Regions from separate parts of the Homo sapiens genome. Here region 2 is linked to region 1. Evidence: fine-mapped expression QTL. A gene starts in region 1. The other region holds a variant in brackets. All regions are shown on one strand. Distances are between the middles of the regions. Region 1 holds the start of DOCK3 (dedicator of cytokinesis 3). Region 2 overlaps HEMK1 (HemK methyltransferase 1, mitochondrial release factors N(5)-glutamine).

Region 1 (10,791 bases):
TGTAGATAAGCAGGAAAATGGGAAGCTTCTGAATGACATTTCCCAACATAGTAATTATCTTTACTAGAGTATCCCTAAGGTGTGATATAGCAAATCAACTGCAAGTACTTAGCTAAAATAATTTGGTGATGTATAAAAAAAATTTAAGGTTTTAAGAGCCTTTATGTGAAAAAAATGCTTGCTTCTCCCTGCAAAAGCTGTCAAAAGGGGGTATGCAAAACAATTAAATGCATAATCATAAACAGGTTTGGCTTGTTCATTACAATAAAAGCATAACATTGGAATTAAAATCCTAATATAGCATACCCAATAATGCTTACATGTTGGGAATAATTTCAGATCATTCTTAAAGAATAAAGACACAAAAATTTTAAAAAATTCAAAATACAAACTATTAAAAATTAAAATTTAGCACCAATGTAAAAATATGCTATGAAGGTTAAAGTACTTTCAACCTCAATGACCATTCTTTTGAGACTGCCCTGCTTCAGAATGCATCTAATACTACACAGAAATAGGTGCCATGTTTACAATTTAGCTTAATGTTTCTAAATCATATTCTAATACTGCATGATAAAACGAACTAGAAATCTGAAGTCTACTGAATAGACTTAAGATGATTAAAAACTTAAACATAAGACCCAAAACTATAAACCTACTAAAAGAAAACATAGGGAAAATGCTTCAGGACATTGGTCTAGGCAAAGATTTTATGACTAAGACCTCAAAAGCACAGGCCACAAAAACAAAAATAGACAAATGGGGCTACATTAAACTAAAAGCTTCTGCACAGCAAAGGAAAAAGAGTAAAGAGACAATCTACAGAATGGGAGAAAATATTTGCAAACTATTTATCTGATAAGGGACTAATATACAGAATATACAAGGAACTCAGCAGCAAAACCAAATAATCCCATTAAAAAGTAGGCAACAGGCTGGGCACAGTGGCTCATACCTGTAAACCCGCCACTCCCCAGGAGGGAGGGTCTCTTGAGGCCAGGAGCTCAAGACCAGCCTGAGTAAAATAGCAAGACCCAGTCTCTATAAAAAAAAAAAATTAAAAATTCGCTGGGCATGGTGGCATGGACCTGTTGTCCTAGCTACTGGAGAGGATGGCTTGAGCCCAGGAGTTCAAGGTTACCATGAGCTACGATCATGCCATAGCACACAAGCCTGGGTGACATAGCAAGACCTCGTCTTAAAAAAAAAAAAAAAAAAAAAAAAGCAGGGCACGGTGGCTCATGCCTGTAATCCCAGCACTTTGAGAGGTCAAGACGGGCAGATCACTTGAGGTCAGGAGCTCGAGACCGGCCTGGCCAATATGGTGAAACCCCGTCTCTACTAAAAATAGAAAAGAATTAGCCAGGTGTGGCGGCGCACACCTGTAATCCCAGCTACTCAGAAGGCTGAGACAGAAGAATCGCTTGAACCCAGGAAGCGAAGGTTGCAGTGAGCCGAGATCACCCCATTGCACTCCAACCTGGGCATCACGGCAAGACTCTGTCTAAAAAAAAAAAAAAAGAAAGAAAAAGAAAAAAATAGTCCAATACAGAAATAAAATTCCTTAAATATAACTATCCAGTTTAAATTGAAAACTGCAGAGTATGTCTTATCTTTCAAGCCACAGTCATATACTACTGACAATTCCTTTCAGAGGACACGGTGTAATAATACAATCTGTGGCTTAGAATCTCAAAGTCCTAGGTTCAAATCTCAACTCAGCACTTACTATCTAAAGTATCTTAGATCAGTTACTTAATTTCTCTCAGCTAAAGCTTCTTTCTCATCTGTTTAAAAAAGAGGGGAGAGGTGGTGATATAGTGTAAAGCTCAAGTAGAATCATGAATAAGGAAGTTCCCCATAAACACTAAACAAGACATCAAGCACATCCTCACTTTTCAGAACAAAATAAAGTCATAGGTCTATGAAATCTTTCCTACCCCTAGTGGATGATGTCTTTACCTCTAAAGGGGTATTGGGGCCCTTCCAGAGGTTGCAAAGGTTGGGCTTCCCTCACTGAATAAATAACTAAAGAGCACACTGTCTTCAGACTATTTTGGTGAGTTCTAGTCCATTTACCAACAGATTTACTCAAATTTTGTGAACACTAATTCTTCCAGATCTGGTTTCAAGGATCTATTTCCTCCCCACCTTCAGATTCTTTTCCTGCACCACAGGATCTTTACAAGTTTCTTTTAAGGACTCAGGATTTGTTTGTTTGTTTGTTTGTTTGTTTTTAAGTGCTTTTCTTCCCTATCTGGAGAAACCTAACCAAAAGGAAGTTAGGTAAAAATAATGCATAAAATACGCATTACTTTTTAAATAGGAAAAAATAAATATAACATTACAAAACTAAAATGTAAGGTCTTCAGATTGGTAATGAGAAAAATTTTTCATGTTCTACTAAGAGGGATTAATAAAAAATAAGCAATAAATGCCCTAAATTACTCAAAAATTTGCCTTAGCTGGGCACAGTGGCTCACAGGTATAATCCCAGTGACTTGGGAGGCTGAGGTGGGAGGATAGCTTGAAGCCAGCAGTTTGAGACAAGCCTGGGCAACATAGCAAGACCATGTCACTAAAAAAAATTTTTTTTAATTAAAATTTAAAAATTAGCCAGGCAAGGCTGGGCGCAGTGGTTCATGCCTGTAATCCCAGCACTTCGGGAGGCCGAGGCGAGCGGATCACAAGGTCAGGAGATTGAGGCCCTCCTGGCTAACATGGTGAAACCTCATCTCTACTAAAAATACAAAAACAAAATTAGCCGGGCATGGTGGCGGGCACCTGTAGTCCCAGCTACTCGGGAGGCTGAGGCAGGAGAATGGCATGAACCTGGGAGGCAGAGCTTGCAGTGAGCCGAGATCACGCCACTGCACTCCAGCCTGGACGACAGAGCAAGACTCCGTCTCAAAAAAAGAAAAAAAAAAATTAGGCAGGCAAGGTAGTAAACACCTGTAGTCCCAGCTACTTGGGAGACTGCTGCAGGGGGATCGCTTGAGCCCAGGAGTTCAAGGCTGCAGTAAGCTATGATCATGCCGCTGCACTCCAGCCTGGATGACAAGAGCAGGACCCCACCTCTCAAAAAAAAAAAATTGCCTAATGACAGCAGCAGAATAAACAAGATGACCTTCTGAAGCAGCTTCCACTTCTAAGACGTCAAACTAATACCTATGTACTCAAACCTTTACCACTTTTCTATTCAAGGAGTGTAATTACAAACATTTTTGTTTTAAAAACTGTTGGTGCTTGCTGCTCCTGCTGTTGCTCCTGTTAGAGGGTGAGAAAAGCATTTTCTTGGTTTTTGTATTCTATATTTGGTACTCTGGGTACAGTCAGTATAGGGAAAGACAGGTGTTTCACAAAAATAGCTGGATTTTTCTCACCTAATACACTTTAGAGCAGGAAGCTTCTTGGAAAGGTAGAATAAAGAATGGAAGGATGCAGGACTTTCCAAGCATTCATGGCAACAGAAAGGAAAGCAGAGATTCTCTAAGAGGGAAAGGGACATAAGAAGTCAAAACACGGGCGAACGGGTACAGTAAAGAACAGTACCTTACAGTACCACAAAAAGAAAGCAAGACAGTCAAGTATTTCACAAAATACTGCCCACTGCCAAGAAGAAAATTAAGAAAAATATACAATCGTTGAAGGACAAAAAAAAAAAAATTAACAACCTTTGGGATCCAGTTTCTTTATCTGTGTAATAATGATAACATTAAGACTACTCTGGGAATCGACATGGGGTTACCTAAGTGAGAGTCCCAGGCACACTGACAGGCCTATCACTGACCCTCAGAAAGGATAATGTCCTCCCCACTGCCTAAAATCACTCACAGAATATTACAATGGAAAGGGGGGCTCAGTCATCACCTCATCCTAAATGAATAAACCAAACAATTCAGTCATGTTATAACCTGTACAGAATTCCTATATTATAAAAAATTTAATAAGTATTACTACAGGATCTCAAAGCCTTATCAATGTCAAATACAAATGAACAGCTGCAGTGGAAAAAACCCTTTGTACTGCTGCAACAGGGGACTCCTTCCCTCACTAACATCAGGGCAAAAGGAGGCCCTCGAGGCCCTCCTCCACAAATTTCTCCAAATTGGTAGGAAGTAAGTGTAAGGGGTTTCCCTCCTTGCTATGTGATTATAGGTTGACAAACAAAGACACAAATCTGTGCTCCAAGTTAGTCATAAAAATCAAAGCTGAAACTCAAACATTTTCTCACAGGAAAATGATAATGGTTATATTTTCAAGCTAGCCCTCATAGCAATCAAATGATGCAGCAAAAATGCCGTTTTAATTGACTATTTTTCTCATAAGTATAATGTATAAGCTACTTTATAAAGTGGATTTTATGAAAAGTTCTAGAAGTGTAGCCCTAACATCCTTATGAAAAAAAATGTGTCCTGAGTTTTAAACAATTTACACAAAAACTTTTAGATCATAACTAAGGAAGGGACAGTGGAAGACTGTGAGATAAATAGAGAGTTGCTTGGTTTGGTAGAAAAGGCATCTAAGTTATGCTAAACCACAGCTGCTATGAAAATGTCTTCAGTGTAACTGTCTCTCTCATTTAGCAAGCATTAAGCTCTGCCCTGAGCCCAATGCTGTGGCCCTCCAAAGGGAATAACAATTTTTCTAAAGCTAAAAACACAATCCTAGGAATGCAAGAATTTCGTTGCATCTTGCTGGGAAAATCACACACCAAATCCTAGTGCTTTGAGATTCACATGTACCTATCTTGATTACCTTGCACTGGCTCTGTCTCAGAACACACTTAGTGTTATTAGTCTAAATACTAAGGGAAAAGAAGAAACTATTAAGCATTCAGCACGTTCTCATTTCACTTTCACAATCCTGTAAGATAGGTAAACATTATCCCCAATTTATACATTAATAAAATGACGTTAAATGATGTTAAATTACTTGCCCACACCACCAGTAAAGAGAAGCTAGGACTCTGAATTCCACTTTGTCCACTATTCAAGGGCTCCTCCCCCCACGCCCCCACCCCCGCCAAAATAGGGCTCCTCCCCCCTCCAAAAAAATCAATCATGGGGTGCCACTGGAGAGTTGACCACTCACATCAATTATTTGTTATTCTAGTTCAGCAGTTCTGGGAGCGAGTTATGGAGAAGATAAACCACCAACTCCTCACTTCACAGAATCAACTCAGTATTCAGGGAATACTCTAAGAGAAGGGGTAAAATGTCCCTAGAGGTGAATCCCAGCTCTTCGCATCATTTCTCAATTCCTTCTCAATAGAGACTCTAGGACCAGAGCTCCCTTTATCACCTCCATCCTAACATACCTAATTGTTTCAGAAAGTTACCTTTTAAAACAAGATCTTCTACCAGAATAGAAGACCTCTCTGCTGGTCCTCGAATTTAAATAAATTCAATTTTCACACGATAACCTGCCTGATAGCATTCCAAAACATTCGTTACCACTGCAGTTTCAAGTTATTTTGTAGTGAATTGTGAACTAAATCTTGATTAAATTGCGGTAAAGATGGGAAACAAAAATCTATGTTTAGACAGGTTTCCTATCTAAAATTTTCCATTACGAGCTTAGGAAAAACAAAACCTGTACACTCAACATTTTAAATCTGTTTCTAACTGAACAAGATGATAGGTGATGCAATGAGGCTTAACTCTATCATGTAATTGCCACAAAACACTAACATTGTAAAACATTCAATACTTTAAATTACTGAATATTCTTTTTAAAGAAGTTGAATATTGTAAGAATTATTTAGCTTCTGGAGTTTAACACTTACAACATTAAAAAAAGGTTTCTAAGAGGAATAAGGTCTCATCTGAAAACAGGGTTTAAAAAAAAAACCGTATAAACATTGATACATGTCCAAAAACATTTCCCATCGTAAGGTATTATTTCTAATACTAAAGGCAAAACAAATTAAAACAGATCAAACATTTGCAGTCAAATGTCCAAATTTTTGAACTGGGAAAATGATGTCAACGTTTTTCATCCGTTTTCTTGTAAGGTTCCAGATCAAAAATAAACAGCCATCGGGCTCATCAATTCAGGTGCGGAAACTCATTAAAATCGAGCTTTTGGAGGGGAGAAAACATATTCCCAGAATTTGGTTTATCGGGTAAAATTGCCCCGTGGCCCACACCAGAAACCTCGGGCAACTGCCCGGGCCTTGCCCACCCCTCCCGCGGGCCGCACCTGCCAAGGCCGCACCGCCAGCGCCCCCTGCCGCCCTCTCTGCACAGAGACCCGCGCCCACCCCCGCACCCGCACCCGCACCCGCACCTGCCCCCACCCCGCGCTCGCCCCGCGCCGAGGCCGCGCAGCCTGCGGGCAGTGGCGGGGGCACGAGGATGCGAATCCAGGCGGGGCCGGGAGCTGGGCGCGTCCCCCAGAACCCCCGCCACGGCCAGGCCTGAGCCTCACCTACCTACGCCGTATTTCTCCTCCTCCGTGGGGGTCCACATGGCCGTGCCGGGCGCGGCCCCGCGGGCGCGGCGACCGGGCGACAACGCGGCGGGGACGGCCGCGGGCCCGGCTGTGGCGCACCGCGAGTCGAGGCGGGGACGGTCAGGCGGCGCGGGGCAGTGGGCGGCGCATCCCTCACAGGCCGTCCGGGATGCCGCCGCCACCCCCGCCACGTCTGGACCGCGAGGCTCCGCGGGTGGCCCAGCAGCCCCTGGCGGCGCGGGCGAAGGCTCGCCACCTGTCCGTCGCCGCTGCTCCCGTGCCGCCGCTTGCTTCTTCACAGCTCCGCCGCCCGGCTCCCGGCGCCGCCGCGGCTCGGCTCGCCCCAGCGGGCTCGCAGGACGCCCGCGCATGCGCCACTCCCTGCCGCGCAGGGGCTCGCGCTGCCCGGGCTCGCGCCGTCCCGAGCCCGCGCGCGAATCCACGCGCCGCTGCTGCGCGCCAGCGGAGGGAAATCCGCGAGAAGCTATTGGACTGCCCGGCCCCGGACCGGCTTCTAGAATCGCTGGTCCGGGGCCCTCAGCTGCAGCAAACCCCGGAGGGGGCGAAGCCGGTCAGGTGGGCGACTCCCTCTACCCGGACTCCCCACTCGCTTCCGCTTCCAGTGCCTCCTGCCTGCGCCCCGAGATGGCCACAGGCCTCCTGGTCGGAGAGGGGAGATCCAGAAAAGGAGGACACGACACCATTTTCAGACCCATCCCAGTGTCACCCACAGTGCTGTCGGAAAGGTCCCCGGAGCCACCCTGTGCATTCCCAGGGCCCGCAGGATGGAGTCGCCACGAGGGAACCAGGTGGGGTGCACTCGTGCCCCTCTCTCCTGGATCCCCTGTGGGCTGAGGCCGCTGACACCTCCTGGGTTCTTGCTTCTCTGAGATGGCCTGAGTGGTGAATGTTTGGGGCCAGAACAATCAACAGCCGCCTTGCTAGTAAGGAAGAGCTTCATTGGGCCCTTCGTGTTCCTACCCAGGACACGGCATCTGCTGCTCCTGGGTGTCTGCCTCCCTTGGAGCCCTAAGAACTGGCTCCTACCGGAAACTTTCCTCCTCTCTCTCCTCCCTAAGAATCCATTCATTCTGATGCCTGTAAATGTCACCTTGTGACCCCCAAGTCAACCACTTACCAAAGAACAGGAACTGCAGGACTTCTCCTTTCCACCTACATTTGGACCACATGCTCTAATCCCAGCAGATTTGCCCATCTCTGTCACTAGCACTACTAAGTCAAAACCCTGGTGTCATCCTTCACTAGCACTCTCAGACACCACCACTCTTCAAAGCCCAGCTCAGCCCCTCACCTCCAGGAAGCCTGCCCTGACCCATAGTCTCCTTTCCTTCTTTGTCTGGAATTGGAGCTATGTTCGGTTTGTCTTATTTCCCTTATAAGACTGTCAGCTCCCAGAAGGCAAGCTCCAGGCTAAAATCAACTTTCTAAACCCTCACCACCAACCCAGCACCTGTTGTATAGTTGTTGCATGGGAAGCCAGACTAATAGAAGAATATCTTGCAATCAACAGATCTTGTTGATTCTTCGTTCAAAGTGTCATGATTGGTAACTCCTCCCAGGCCTGACTGTGCTCCCCTGGGTTATGGCCACCCCTTCCCACCTTCGGACCTTTAGGCTCCTCCTCTCACTAATCATAGCTGCCCACTCCCGCCCAGAAAAATGTCTGTTCTGTGAATGATAGAATTTCTCAATAGCCAGGTACACTTCTTTTTAGGGGTAGCAGGGGTGTCCAAGAACATAACGAAAGAGCTAACTGTTCCAAGAAGATAGACCCCTCCCCGGTGGCCACCATGGAAGTATTCTATGGAATGAAGCCACATTCTTACAAAACTCTCCAGGTAGCTATTCAACAAGTGGGGCTGAGCTACGCAGGCCTTCAGGGAACAACCTTAAAGCTCTTATTTCATCCTCTAAGTTCACTCCCTTGTCTGCTGTATGTGATGACAGTCACAGAGCCTAAGGGCCAGTTTTTCCAAAGTTTATACTCTTGTTCCCAGTCTGAATCCATCTTAGATTATGGCTTTCCCAGATGAAGAAAATTCTCCATGATTGCACACCTCAGCTCCAGGGTGGAAGGGCATTAAACCCAACCAGGGAAGGGAAAAGAAGGGACCAAAGTGAGAAGGAAGGGACTTAGTAAGCCTGGACTCCTACACTCTTGCTGTTTGTATAAATTTAGATTGTTTTTGTGAGTTGAAGCAAAAGGGCATAGCACACATTGGCCTTCAGCAGGACCATGCACCTGCTCTCTTATCCCCCTAGCATCTGCTCTGATCCTTTCCTTCCTCAGGCTCCCAGTCCACTCAACACACCACACACACACTCTCTCAGCATATGAGCTGCCTTCCAGCTTGCCTCTGAAAATCGAGACCCTCAGCACAGTAACCTCCCCTCCTCTCCAACTGCTCTTCTTTGTGTTCTCGCCACCACCAGGCTCACTGCCTGCTACTTCTCAGGATCCCCAACTATCATTGCCCTGTCTCCCATTTTCACCCTGACCTGCTCCACAGACTCCTGCGGTCCCAGGAAGACCTGCCCTGTTGGTACCCTCATCCCCCCATTCCCTCTCTCTTCCTCCTCTCTCCATCTGACTACAGAGGAGAATCATCCATTCCAAATCCTTTTATTTCAATGTAATTCATTTGATTCTCACCACCTGAAGGTCTGCGTTCTGACCCTGTCACCTCCTGGAAACTACTTTCCCAGAATTCCCCAGGGCCATCCCAACTTCAGACCATTGCCTTGTTCTGGCTGGGTTTTTGCATAGAGTGTCCCTCAGCTTGTGTCCTCTACTCTTGAAACCCACACATCTGCATCATGCTTCAAGAGCTGTCTCAGGGCCACTTTCCTGAAGAAGGCTTCCCCAACTGCCCTCAGTTCAGCTGGATTTTTTGCACCCATTATGACCTTTTCTGTAGCACTTACTCATTCCACCCTTCTCCAAGAGATCAAATGGGTCTGCTTCTCACATTGGCAAACATCTGTTTTTTTCTTCAGTGACAAGGATTGTTCTTCAATTATTTTTACCTTACACAGAGACTAACATAGTGCCTACCACCTAACATGAATTTAACATACACTCTTGGGTGAATAATCTCCCTGTACGTTTTCTGAGACCATAATGAAATAGGTTGGAAGAGAGAACTGAGATGTTTACCTCAGCAAGTCACAAATCGGCAAACTCAGAAACTCTAATTAATTAAATTTCTTTGTTATAGACATATTGGTTTTAATTAAAAATTCATTGCAATGTCTTATTGAGTAGCTATAAAAAAGATAAACATGATAGAGCAATTTAAAAAACAAAGTATGCAAACAGTTTCACTTATCATGTCACTGTTACTTTTGGGTTTAACTCATTACCTTAGATGATAAATTGCAACTCGATGAGCAAGGAAGGAATCAAGTTTTCTGCAGGAAATTCGTTAAGACTGGTGGCTGTTAAAAATAGCCGATACCCAAACAAATTTTATAAATAATTTACAAGAAATGCAGACAGCATCATCTTTTTCTCTTAGAGTTTAAGTTGATCAATAATTTTTTATCACAAGCAAACTCCATAATGGTAAATCCCCCATCACCTTTGGTGAATGATACTGGCCCTCTACAAAGCTCGATGAGATACACTTCATATCTTCTCTCCTTGTTTTCTGCTGCCTAGAGAATCACACAGCAGCATTTAAGGAGCCAGCCAGTCTGATGACTCAGCTCATAAAACAATGTGTGGCCACAAAGATGATGTTTATCCATGAGCATTCTGGAGGCTCTTGCTACTGAAGTCGGCAAGCAGTGGATAAGTGGCACACGATGCTCATTCTCAAGAGTTTCTGGCAGCGGTGCCAACACAGCACTCACTTCCCTCTCTCAGCAGTTGATTTCATCTGATGCTCTGTCCAAACAGAATGGTAGAAAAAAACATCAGAGAAATGCAGTGGGTATAGAGGCAAATCCAAACAAAGTGCAGGTGATAGTGGTGACATTCTGCCTTCTCTTGATCAGAAGGTGTCAGCAGCTGGAGCTTATCCCCATATGAACCCCAGGGTCAGGTAAATGGAAGACTTAAGAACACGTTACCCAACTTACCTCTGCCCTTCTGGGTTCCTCAAGGAGGGGGTCTGCTGTGGTTAGTAAAACGTCTGCGGAGCTAGTTTCCTTCATGGCAGAGAGATGCGCAAGCTAGTCTCACTTCACCAGCACCTCTTATTTACCCCAAAGCAACACCTTTTAGGAAGCCTCCTTTCAGGAGGCAGCTTTGGAATAAGGGGCTAATTCAAAGTAAGTTAACACAAAGGCTGTACACAGTGGCTCACACTT
Region 2 (10,791 bases), 100 kb after region 1:
GCCAGGCCCTGGGAAGTGCCAGGGTGGCAGGGGGCAGTCTAGTGGAATGAGACAGCCTGGTTTGCCATGTTTCTTAGGACCCACCCTGATGTAGGCTCACATCACCAGCACTCACCAACCTAGAGATTTCCTGTCGCTGTTGACAGGAAGGCTGGATCTGCAGGCCTCCTGGTGGCCATGAGTCTGCACAGACCAGAGCTGGGGTGGAGGCCACAACCCTGTGCCCAGTATCTCAGCTTCTCACTCTCCCCAGCCCCAACCAGGGACACATGGGTTATTTGAAACCCCAGGGGGTCAACTCGGGAGGGATGTTTTAGCTAAAAGCTATGGGGATAAAAAGGAAACACCCCTCACTGGCTCAAGCCTTCAGTTAAATGAACGTGGATGTGCGACCCAGGAACTGTGCAGCAAAGACCTCCAGACCCTCCCCTCCAGAAAGCAGGCAGTCATCCTTGAGCCAAAACGCAGATGAGCTTCCTGTGCTCGAGCCAGGCTTGGCCAGGGAATTGTGTACGCATGCACCCAGGGCAGTGGAGGACTAATCAATCCCTGGGAGTGAGCTGCTCTATGCCAGGACCCATGGTATCCAAGGCCAGGAGTGAGGACTCACGTGCCTTCCTCCACACTGCACCCCCACACCACTACCAAGCAGGGGACTGACGGCCAGCCCTGCTGGGGCAGAAGGAAACCCTTGCCCCAGTGCTACCTGGGAGTAAGGGGGTCAGGGGACCTGCAAGTCATGGACAAAACATTAGGTCACCATTTGTTAGTCTCTCAATACTTTACTGGCCATATCCCCCGATACCCCCACAGCAATTTCACCAACACAGAGCAACTGCCCTCAGCCACTCTGATGTGATGGAGCCAATCCAGGTGTCCTAGAAATATCCTAGAAATGCAGAGCATGGGGAAATCACAGAACCCTGGGAAATGCCATAAGAACCTGGGCTCTGGAAAGTGCCATCCACCTCCCCTCTGGTCAGGCTGGCGGCACTGACAAGGCATCCACAGGGCAGCCATGCTATGGCCCAGACCTCCGGATATGCAGGAACCGGGGCCTGAGGAGACAGGGACAGGGGCTGGTTACCACCTGGGCCTCAGGGAATGAACAGGAAGTGGGAACAGCACACTCTCCTGACAGCCAGGGCTGAGGATGGCCCCAGTGGAAAGACCAGCATGCTACAGGGCTAAAGGGGGCTAGGATCTTACCTCCCACAGAAGTCCCTGCGCACAGCCACAAGATTAAGGTACAGGTCAGGCCGGCTCTGAAGCCAGCTGCTGACAAGCTCCGGGTGCCTTGGGTCCACTTCTAAGAAGATACTACTACATGGGGGAGAAATGGGTGGGCTCAGCAGGACAGGTCTGGCGCCTGCCCTTCTGGGCTGCTTGGGCTGGCGAGGTGAGGGTCCTGTGCTGACCTCTGCCAGGGCCTGCCCAGTACACATTAGGAGCAGAGGAGCCTGCTGGGGACAGACCTAGGAGACCCATCCCATTCATACCCAGAGTCTTTCAGGAGCCGGGGTGCCAAGGCCAGAATGTGGGTAATGATGTCCATGCCCTCCTCCCCACCATCCAGGGCCGCGGGGTCTTCATAGCTGAAAGGCAAAGCAGTGGGAGGTGACAGCCTGAGAAAGGGGTATCTGAAATGCATGGAGGGCATGGGCAAGGCCTCCATGAATGGGGCCCTGTGGAACTTACACTCTGGGCTGAAGGGCAAATCTGAGGACCCAGAGAAGGAGGGCCCCAAATGGGTGGCAGCTCCTCTTCTCTTCCTCCCATGGGCAGCACCCTACCAGGCAGCGCCAGGCATGCTTGCTGAATCCCACTGGCTGATGGCCTCTCTTGATGCACTGACTCATGTCAGGGCATGAGTGTCTCCCCACAGGCTGCTCCTCTTCTTGGTCTGGGAGATCTGGGGCTAGCCCTGACCACTCCTGAGAGCCCAGAAAGGGAGAGCCAACACCCCAGCCCCATCCAACATGACTGCTGCCCCATCCAGGACTCCTGGGCTGCCCCTGGTTCTCAGCCCCTGTGTAAGAGCAGGATGGCCTGGCACAAAGCTAGCCTGGGGCCAGCTTTTAGTCCCGGCTTTCCCACTGAGCCCCCATGCGACCACAGACAAGACACCTTCCCTCTCTGGGCCTCAGTATTCTATAAAATGATGCGCCCATCTACTGAGCACCCTGTATGAGCCCTCCACTGTGTTTGATGCTTTCAAGTCGTCACTGAGTCCTCCCGTGGCCCTGCAGAGCACTACCTCTCTTTTTCTAGAGGCAGGAAACAGGTCCAGAGAGGTTCGGTGGCTGTCCAGTAGTTTTAGTAGGAAGTAAGGAAGTAGGAAGGTAGAAGCTGAATCTAGGTAGGACTGTGGGCTCTCGAGTGCGTCAACTTAACACCATTGCCCATTTCAGCACCAACTCCCCTGTCCCTCCAGATGGTGTGGTCCTCGAGGGCAGACTAATCCCATCAGGCCTTTTCAGGCCTGGCCTCCCTGGCCCACCCTGCTTAGCACCTGCGGATCTCAGGGGCCAGCTGCTCCATGTCCTGGTGGAAGACGTAGGGAGGGTTGCTGACAATCAGGTCCATGGGGCCCCAGGGCAGGTGTGTCCAGCTCCTTTCTGTCGTCAAAGAAGAGGACACACAGTAGGGACTAACCCATTGGGAGGTAAAGGATGATAGCTCCACCTGCCACCATGTCCCTCTCACCATGCCACACCTTGGGCCTGCCTCTGGATCTGATAAGCCAGACCTGCAAATTAGTGCCCAGGGTCCCCAGCTGGCAGCCTGGTGGGGAATGTGCATGCTTTAACATGGCAGCCCCTCATTTCAAGGCATAGAGTGTCCTTGCCAAAAATCCTCCTTATTATGCAAGACTCTGTTCAAGTGCCACTTCCAGGGCGTCCTCCCTGATTGCCTAGGCAGAAAAGAGCCTTTCTCTTCTGTAGCTCCACTAGCCTTATAGCCAACATGGACTGAGAGTACATGGAGGGTAGGCCTGGCCTCATCAGCCAATTCCTGATGGCTCTGACTACTGGTTTCACCCTGTGCCAGGTGCTACACCAAGTATATCACATTCCATGGAGGGGGCACTGAGGCTCAAGGATCCCACGGGTAAGGCAATGGAGCCAGAACTGGAGTTGGAGGCCTGGAGACACTGTAAAGGCTATAGCTGAGCTGTGCAGTGCCTGGACCACTTCCCCTGCCAGGCAGGGGGAAAGGGGCACTCAAGTATTTTGGTCCTGAAGGCATTATTTTAAGCTTTTGCTTATCTGTTGCCAACAAGCAAGCCCTTAACTCATTGGTTGTGAGGAATTCGGAAGTTCTCTGTGG[C/T]TGGTCCCTTATGGGTCAGGTCAGCCTAGGAGGCAAAAGCACCTTGTCTGTCCTCAGCCAAGGCTTCGTTTGAGCTGCCACAAACGTGCACACACACACGTGTATGTGTGTGTGTTGTGTGTGGCTGTGTGGCTGTTGGGGGAGCTCTCCCTCCATCTCCACGGAGTGCCTCATCCACCCAGCAGCACCTGCATCTAGTCTCCCTCTCTCAAGGAACATGCAGGGGAGGGTACCTGAGGTCATGTCGAGGTGGATGATCCAAATCCTGTCCTGCAACCGAAGCCTACACAGACAGGGAGAAAGGGGTAGGCACGGGGGCAGACCCCTACCCTTCACTACAAGAATGAGGTCTTATAGTCAACCCTTCTTGGACTGGCAAGATACTCACTGCCCACTACCCATTCAGAACCCCATGGGACCCATGCCAGGCTACCCCACTGCTTCCTCCTTCTTGGGAGTAGAAATCAGACATTGGTGAGTTTGAAACCTGAAAAGGAGTCAAGATTAGGCCCCAAAGTGCAACTCCCCCACCTACCTCTGAGCATTCTCATGGGTCAGAGAGATAGCAGCTTCCCGCTTATCCACAGCAATGACTCGGCTCTGTCCCAAGAACAAACAGAGGATATGTGGAAGGCAATGCTGAGAGATGCTGGAAGATACTGGGCCTGGGGGACCCTCCTCCAACCCCCCACCAGAAGAGAAGGGAAATACCCAACAGCCTTTTCTTCTTGGCCAAAGTCTAGCCAGATAGATGTGGTAGGCGTTAGAGTCTGTGAACCACAGTGGGCTAGGGGCAGCCCTGTCCTCCCTCATCCAGCTGCTTCCCCTCAAGCGCTCCTAGCAGAGGGATGTGGGGGAAGCACTAATGGGAGGGACAGTGAGTGTCAGTCACAGTCTATCCAGAGTGGGTGGAGGGGCTCACCTGGGGGAGCTGGCTCAGCAGGCTGAGGGAGATGGCTCCTGATCCGCAGCCCACCTCCAGAATGAGGGGGCTGCCTGGGGATCCCACAGCATGGGACCTCTGGGCCACCTCTTCCAGCACCCACTCAACCAGTTCCTGTGAAGCAGAGGGATCTGGATCAGAGTCGGTGCCAACGTGGCTCCTGGGGGTCTTGGTACAGAGGCCTAAGCAGTTACCCTTGTGAACGTAGGAAGGGGAGGTAGCCAAAGCCAGACTGACCTTCATGTCAGCTGGGGCATGGCCAAGTCACCCTGCCCCTCCAGGCCTCAGCTTCCCCATCTGTACATCTGAGCCCAGTTGAGGATAGCCCACCTCGTGGGGATGTGGTGGGGATTAAATGCACTAATCCACACCTGTTTCATGTTAAGTGTTCAATCAACCCCAGCTAAGCCCTTTACAGACATCCTCCCATTCTGTGCTTACAGAAATGCTAAGAACTGGCTGGGCACGGTGGCTCATGCCTGTAATCCCAACACTTTGTGAGGCTAAGGTGGACAGATCACTTGAGTTTGGAGTTTGAGACCAGCCTGGCCAACATGGTGAAACCCCGTCTCTGCTAAAGGTGTGAAAATTTGCCAGGCATGGGCATGGTGGCGGATGTCTCTAGTCCCAGCTACTCAGAAGGCTGAGGTGAGAGGGAGAATTGCTTGAGCCCGGGAGGTAGAGGTTGCAGTGGATCAGGATCGCGCCACTGCACTCCAGCCTGGGAGACAGAGCAACACTCCATCTCAAAAGAAAAAAGCTAAGAACCATACCTGATAGTTCCTGTCCACTCCCTCTGGCCTGACCCTGCTCCCAGAGTTTTTCCTGTATTAATCTGTTAAATCCTCACAAGTGTCCCATGAGGAAACTGAGGCCTGGGGTCAAGGCCCCACCTGAGCCTGGCCTGTGGTTTCATGGTGGCCAAGAATCAGGAGCTGGTGTGTCCCCAGCCTCCTCACAGAGCTGGGCTTGAGAGGCCCCCAGGGAGGCTCCTAGGCCAAAGGGACAGGGAATTCCCTCTTTTGGAGGAGATGGGCCATGGGGGGACATGGTCCTGACTAAGGACCTGAGGGCTGTGGCATACACAGGCATAGGTCAACAGGCATGGGTGCAGAGGGAGGTGCCTGACTGCACTGTACCTGCCCTGGCAGCAGGAGGACATTTTCAGACACTGTCACTTTGGAAACAAGAGGGTTTCAAGCCTTGCCTACCCAGCCACTGCCTGCAAGGACTATGCCTGTAAACCAACATAGGGTAGGGGTAAAGGGTGGAAGGCTCCTGCCGTCCAATGGCCAAAATTTTTCTAACCAGCAGTGGAGTGGGACACCTGAGTAGCCAGGCATGAGACAAGGAAAGGGCAGTGTAGCTCCTTCTCAAAGGCATCCCTTTGGATGTGGGCAGAGAAGCCCCCCAGAGGGTCAGGACTCCTGGGACCCCAGGTCTCAGGAAAGACTGGCTCAGGGAGCTGGGGATGGTGGGCAGCAAGTGGGTGCTTCCCTGATCTGAAAAGAGGACTACCTATTCCAGAAAGCCTTCCTCAAGCCTGGGCCAGGCTCTACCACGGCTTTCTCCACCCTGAGCCTAAGGTCTAGCCTAAGGATGGGGTGTGCCTCTCCCACCAGACGCCATAATAGGAAGACCTGAGGTCTGACTCATCGCAGTGTGTCCCACACTGGCAGGGCTTGGCCCACAGACAAACCTCTTGGCTACTTTCTTTTTTTCTTTTCTTTTCTTTTTTTTTTTGAGACAGAGTTTCGCTCTGTTGCCCAGGCTGGAGTACAATGGCGCGATCTTGGCTCACCGCAACCTCCGCCTCCCAAGTTCAAGCGATTCGCCTGTCTCAGCCTTCCCAAGTAGCTGGGATTACAGGCATGCACCATTGTGCCTGGCTAATTTTGTATTTTTAGTAGAGACAGGGTTTCTCCACGTTGGTCAGGCTGGTCTCGAACTCCCGACCTCAGGTGATCTACCCGCCTCAGCCTCCCAAAGTGCTGGGATTACAGGTGTAAGCCACAGCGCCTGGCCCTCTTGGCTACTTTCTAAGTGATGGGCAAGCTCTCTGTGGCACCACCCTCTGAGTCTCACACCCCCAGGTCTCCCCCACACCCCAATGCCATCAGCCAGGCCCAATGGAGCAGAGGGCTCCAGATCACTCACACCCATTTTCCACATAAGTTCCCCAGTGCTGGGTTCCAAAAAGCATCTCACCCTTCCAGGCCCCCAAACCCAGCAACAATGTTCACCCACCCTGAGGGTGGCAAGTCCAAAGCAGGCAGAACTTGGCCAGCAGGTCCAACCCTCCATGTTCCAAGCCTCTTCTGCACCTAACAAATGATTGCCTGTGGGTGAGGGGGCCCAGTTCCAGCAGGAGAGAGTGTGTATTCACTAGCTCTCACCAGCCCTGTGCCAGGCACTACTGGAGACCACTAAGGTACTTGTGGCAAGCTTAGCCTGCAAGGTTGGGCCAGGTACAGAGTGAGCAGTATAGGGCTGTGGCTGAGAGCCTGTGGTCTCAGTGGTGAGGCCACAAGCTGAGAGGTTGGTAGGGTGACCAGTTGTTGTCAGGTGTGTAAGCCTCTCTTGGTTTCCTGGTCATAGACAGACCTACTCTGGCTGGAGAATGACCCCTCAGCCAGCCACACTGGCCAGCCACCTCACAGAGATACTCAAAGACCTCAAAGACACACACCACGTATGTGGATGGCCACCTTGGGGAGGGTAAGAAGCTAAGAAACTGAGCCCCTGCCACCACTAGTGGCCTCTTGTTTGCCATAACACTCCAGAGCACCGGAAACTCATCTTGGTTGTAGAGCCACCTGGGGCAGGGGTAGATAACAGCCCAAGGAGTCCAGAAACTTTCTCTTCTCCTCCTAGTGAAGAGCCTCCCTCAGCCTAACGCTGGTGGCTCTTTCGGCAAGACTAAAAGCCATGCTGGTCACAGGCTCAGGGCACCCCCTCCAGGTGAATATGGTAAGAATCCAAGAACAGGGTGGGGCACAGACGCATGCGGGAAAGAGGTGAGGGGCAGGCAGTTGTTGGCTCTGCCTAGAACTGCTGCCCCAACATGGACTCCATACCCCATCAAGAGGCTGGCCCAAGGCCTGGGCAGAACCTAAGTGCCCATGAGTACCCTCTATTAGGATGGCATCCCTGGTGGGGCAGACCCAGGGAGGTGGCATTGCCTCCTTCAAGCCAATCACAGACAAAACACTGAGCCTCCCACAACCTGTACAGCCTCACAGCAGGCTGGGTGAGAATGGTTCACACCCCCAGCCCTGAGTTTCCTACTGTATTCACTGCCAGGCCAGGGGCTGAACCACCTTCTCACCCTTAGGGAAAATGCAACTCACTGGGCACATGCCTCCTGCAAGTTTGCACTTCAGACTCCCCTTTCATCAGAAACCATCCCCTGCACCCATTCTCACTACTCCCTGCCACAGGCCACGTCCTCTTGAGTTCTTGGTAAGGCATCCCCCGATGTGGCTTTACATTGGGGTGAACCTGGTGAGTTCTCAGAAATGTCTGCACAGCAAGATGAGCACCTGGCCTCCCAATCGCAGCATCTCCCCTCACCCCACCCCTTGCAGTAGAGCTGCTCTCTTGGCCCAGACCCATCCAAGAATCAGGGGGCCACATGGGAGCCAAAGTCCACACTTGATACTCAGAACCCTGGCACATATGGCTGGTGCCAGGTCAGCTCTGAAGGAACTCAAAAGTCACCATGCCCTGACCCTGGGAAGCCGGAGACAGCAAATGATCTCTTCGCCAGAGATCACGTGTTTTCAGGAGCCACAGGTAAGCCTCCCAAAGTCTGCAGGTGGCAGGCCACACCCTGCTCTGGGTCTCCATACTGTGTCCTAGGTCATGCCAATCCCAGATGGGGCAGCCCCATGTGAGGGATGGGGCTCTGAGCTGGGAGTCAGGAAGTCCACGTGCTGCCCCCATGCTCCCTTCCTTGACAGCCCTGTGACTTCAGCAAGGCCTCAGATTCCCTACTGTCCCTGCCCTGACACTGGGCAGTGAAGCAAGGACCTGGCCTCCCAACCACATGATATGGAGAGGAGAGGGGTCAGAGAGTTTCTTGGCTAGGGGACAGAAGCTGAGAAAGTGAAAGAAGGGTTTGGGGCCCCCTGGCCACAGCAGGGGAATGGGAACTAACCTTTCCCAGAAATGTTTGTGTGCCTAGGTCTTTCTAGAAACACTCCTTCTCAGAACCTGGCGCCCTCTGGCTTGCCCACCAGCTCTCACCCAGCTCTACTCCCTGGTCTGCGCCCTCTGGCTCCCAGCTCTGTCATCTACAAGGTCAGAGGGGAGTCCAAGAAGGGCCATATAAAGCGTCTCTTCCAGGACCAGGGTGCCTTACCAAGGGATAACACACTTGCGCCACACATCCCTAGTCCTAGTAATTTGAGGGACAACACAGGTGATTACCAGACCAGTCAGTAGACCTAAGAGGGCCACCAGATTCTCTGGGCTGGAGGGCTAACCCTCTCATCATCTGGGCCCAGAGATGGCAGGAGGGCAGTGACCTGCCCAAGGTTGCACAGCTGATACCAGGTCTCCAGGTGTCCGGCTGGAGCCCTCTCCACTTCCTCCATGCCTCCTGAGAAGCTGCTGGAAGACATTTGTTCCCTGTGGGTTGGGTGAGCCATGGGATGGCTCCCAGAGAAATGGCAGAACAGGCTAAGTACTTGGGCAGCACTATTTGAGGCACTCTGGGCCATTGCCAGACCTAGAGGCTGGGTTGATAGCTTGGAACATAACAGTCAAGGGGACCAACAGGAATCCTCTGTCCTCTGGGCTCTGCCAACACAGTCAGAGAGGAAATACATGTCTAGAAAGGCACTGTCCCTGAAGTCATGGGGCCCCAGTGCCCCCTGGAGGAAGCCTGGGGTAAGACTGGTGCCCTGAACTCCACCATCATCCTGATCCTGCCTTGCCCTGGTGGCACACCTACCTCTGTTTCTGGCCGAGGAATAAACACTGGGGGCACCATCCTTAGGCTGAGCCCCTGGAAGTCCCACTCTCCAAGGATGTACTGCACCGGCATCCTGCAGAGGGGGCAGCTGGGTGGTCATCAGGGACAGAGCTAGGACCAACAGGACCATGCCTGGGTTGAGATACCACTTGTGGCCAAAGGTATCAGGCAAGACCATGTCTCCAGGGCCTTGGGACTCCTGAGGCAAAACCCTCCCTCCCTCCCTTCTTCCTATTCAGTACCCCGGCCCCACTCTTGCCACTCCTGCACCCCAACACCTCCCTAGTCCTTGGACATTCTCCTCCTCCCTGAACTTGGTGGGGATAGGGGAGGCTGGACTGCTGCTCCCTGAACACATCCTTCAGGTCTGATCCATGGGTGCTCACCTCTGCAATCGACGGCTACTCAGCTCCCGGATACACTGTAGTTGCTGAGAGGTCAAGGGCTGGGTCCAAAGTGCCGGCCTCAGGCTCTGAAACTGTCCCCACAGAGAATATAAGTGGCTGGCTCACTGGGCCCAAGGCCCCCAACCCAGGTGTCTTATGTGGATAATGCCTGCCCAGCACTGGTCTGGAGGCCCAACCCTCTCATCATCTGGGCCCAGAGGGGGCAGCATCCTGCCTAAGGTTACACAGCTAACACCAGGCTTCCAGGTGTCTATCCCAGAACACTTAGGCAGAGATATATTCATTCATCCAACAAACTGTTACAGTGTGTGCCAGGCGCTAAGACGTTCCTTCAGAAAAATCCCATCAGTCTCAGCTAAGCACTCTTAGTGAACAGAAAACCTGGATATCCCTTCCCCAAGTCCTCCCTCCTCCCTCTTCCTGTCCTCTTGACAACACTAAACTTAACTGTTTTGGCTCCAAGGACATGAGCCACGATGTACTCACTGGATTCCCGGGCCTCAGGGATACCCCTCTTCTCAAAGACCCCAGTCCAGTGGCTGACCAGTTCTATGGCACTGGATAACCCAGCCAGAGGTGGTTGGGGTTGCCATGAGCTGAAGGCCCAGCCCCGGGTACTTCCCCTCCTCCCTGGGCCAGACAGGAGGGCCCACAGCATTCGGCCCCAAAGCTCCATGTCTCAGGGAAAGGTTCTCCAGAGTGCTTCCAGGTTCCCAAGTCTGCTTTATGATGTCAGCTGCTGAGGTGAGTGCTGAGAGTGGCCCCTGGACCCAGCTGGGTGGAGATGGAGAGGTCACAAGCTCTGGTGCCCCAAAATGGCTCTGGTCCTCAGATATAGTTGGTTGCCACCCTGGGAGTGAGAGGAACCAGGAAAGCAGGTGAGCCTTGTATGACACCCCCCCTTCTACCAATACATTGCCTGAGAATAGTTGTGCTCTTGCTCTGACACCCCCTTGACTCCATTTAGAGCCTTACCCACCTATTTGATCATTCTTGTCTTGGCCACTTACGTTTTCTTCACATTTTTAGCTGGAGTGGGCTGAGCCCATAGCTCAGTCTCTGCTAATAAACGGGTTGGTGGTAGGTTAGGGCACATATGTGGGGACAGGACAGATCTGTGTCTAACCTAGCGT

What was found. PIP is the estimated chance that this variant, and not a neighbour inherited with it, causes the effect. A credible set is the group of variants that fine-mapping cannot tell apart.
Region 2: its variant is the best candidate, but not a certain one, in a credible set for the expression of DOCK3 in coronary artery (GTEx, PIP 0.70).

Annotation. Positions count from the first base shown.
Region 1 is chr3:50,670,946-50,681,736 of GRCh38, reverse strand. DOCK3 (dedicator of cytokinesis 3) reads right to left here and starts at 6,810. Exons shown (of 53, transcript NM_004947.5): 1 at 6,437-6,810. The coding sequence starts at 6,473. It overlaps LINC02019 (long intergenic non-protein coding RNA 2019), which reads right to left. Exons shown (of 2, transcript NR_183733.1): 1 at 10,561-10,791; 2 at 9,686-10,366. It overlaps MIR4787 (microRNA 4787), which reads right to left and starts at 6,657; the gene lies at 6,574-6,657. RefSeq lists a silencer at 6,557-6,846.
Region 2 is chr3:50,570,648-50,581,438 of GRCh38, reverse strand. HEMK1 (HemK methyltransferase 1, mitochondrial release factors N(5)-glutamine) reads right to left here. Exons shown (of 11, transcript NM_016173.5): 2 at 10,107-10,508; 3 at 9,638-9,729; 4 at 9,231-9,324; 5 at 4,253-4,387; 6 at 3,866-3,930; 7 at 3,564-3,613; 8 at 2,513-2,618; 9 at 1,500-1,595; 10 at 1,210-1,323; 11 at 1-1,058. The coding sequence starts at 10,334. The coding sequence ends at 1,022. It also overlaps a transcript of C3orf18 not described here. Among named protein-coding and RNA genes, the nearest start is that of HEMK1, 6.5 kb to the right of the region's middle. The variant C/T (reference allele first, on the strand shown) is at 3,331.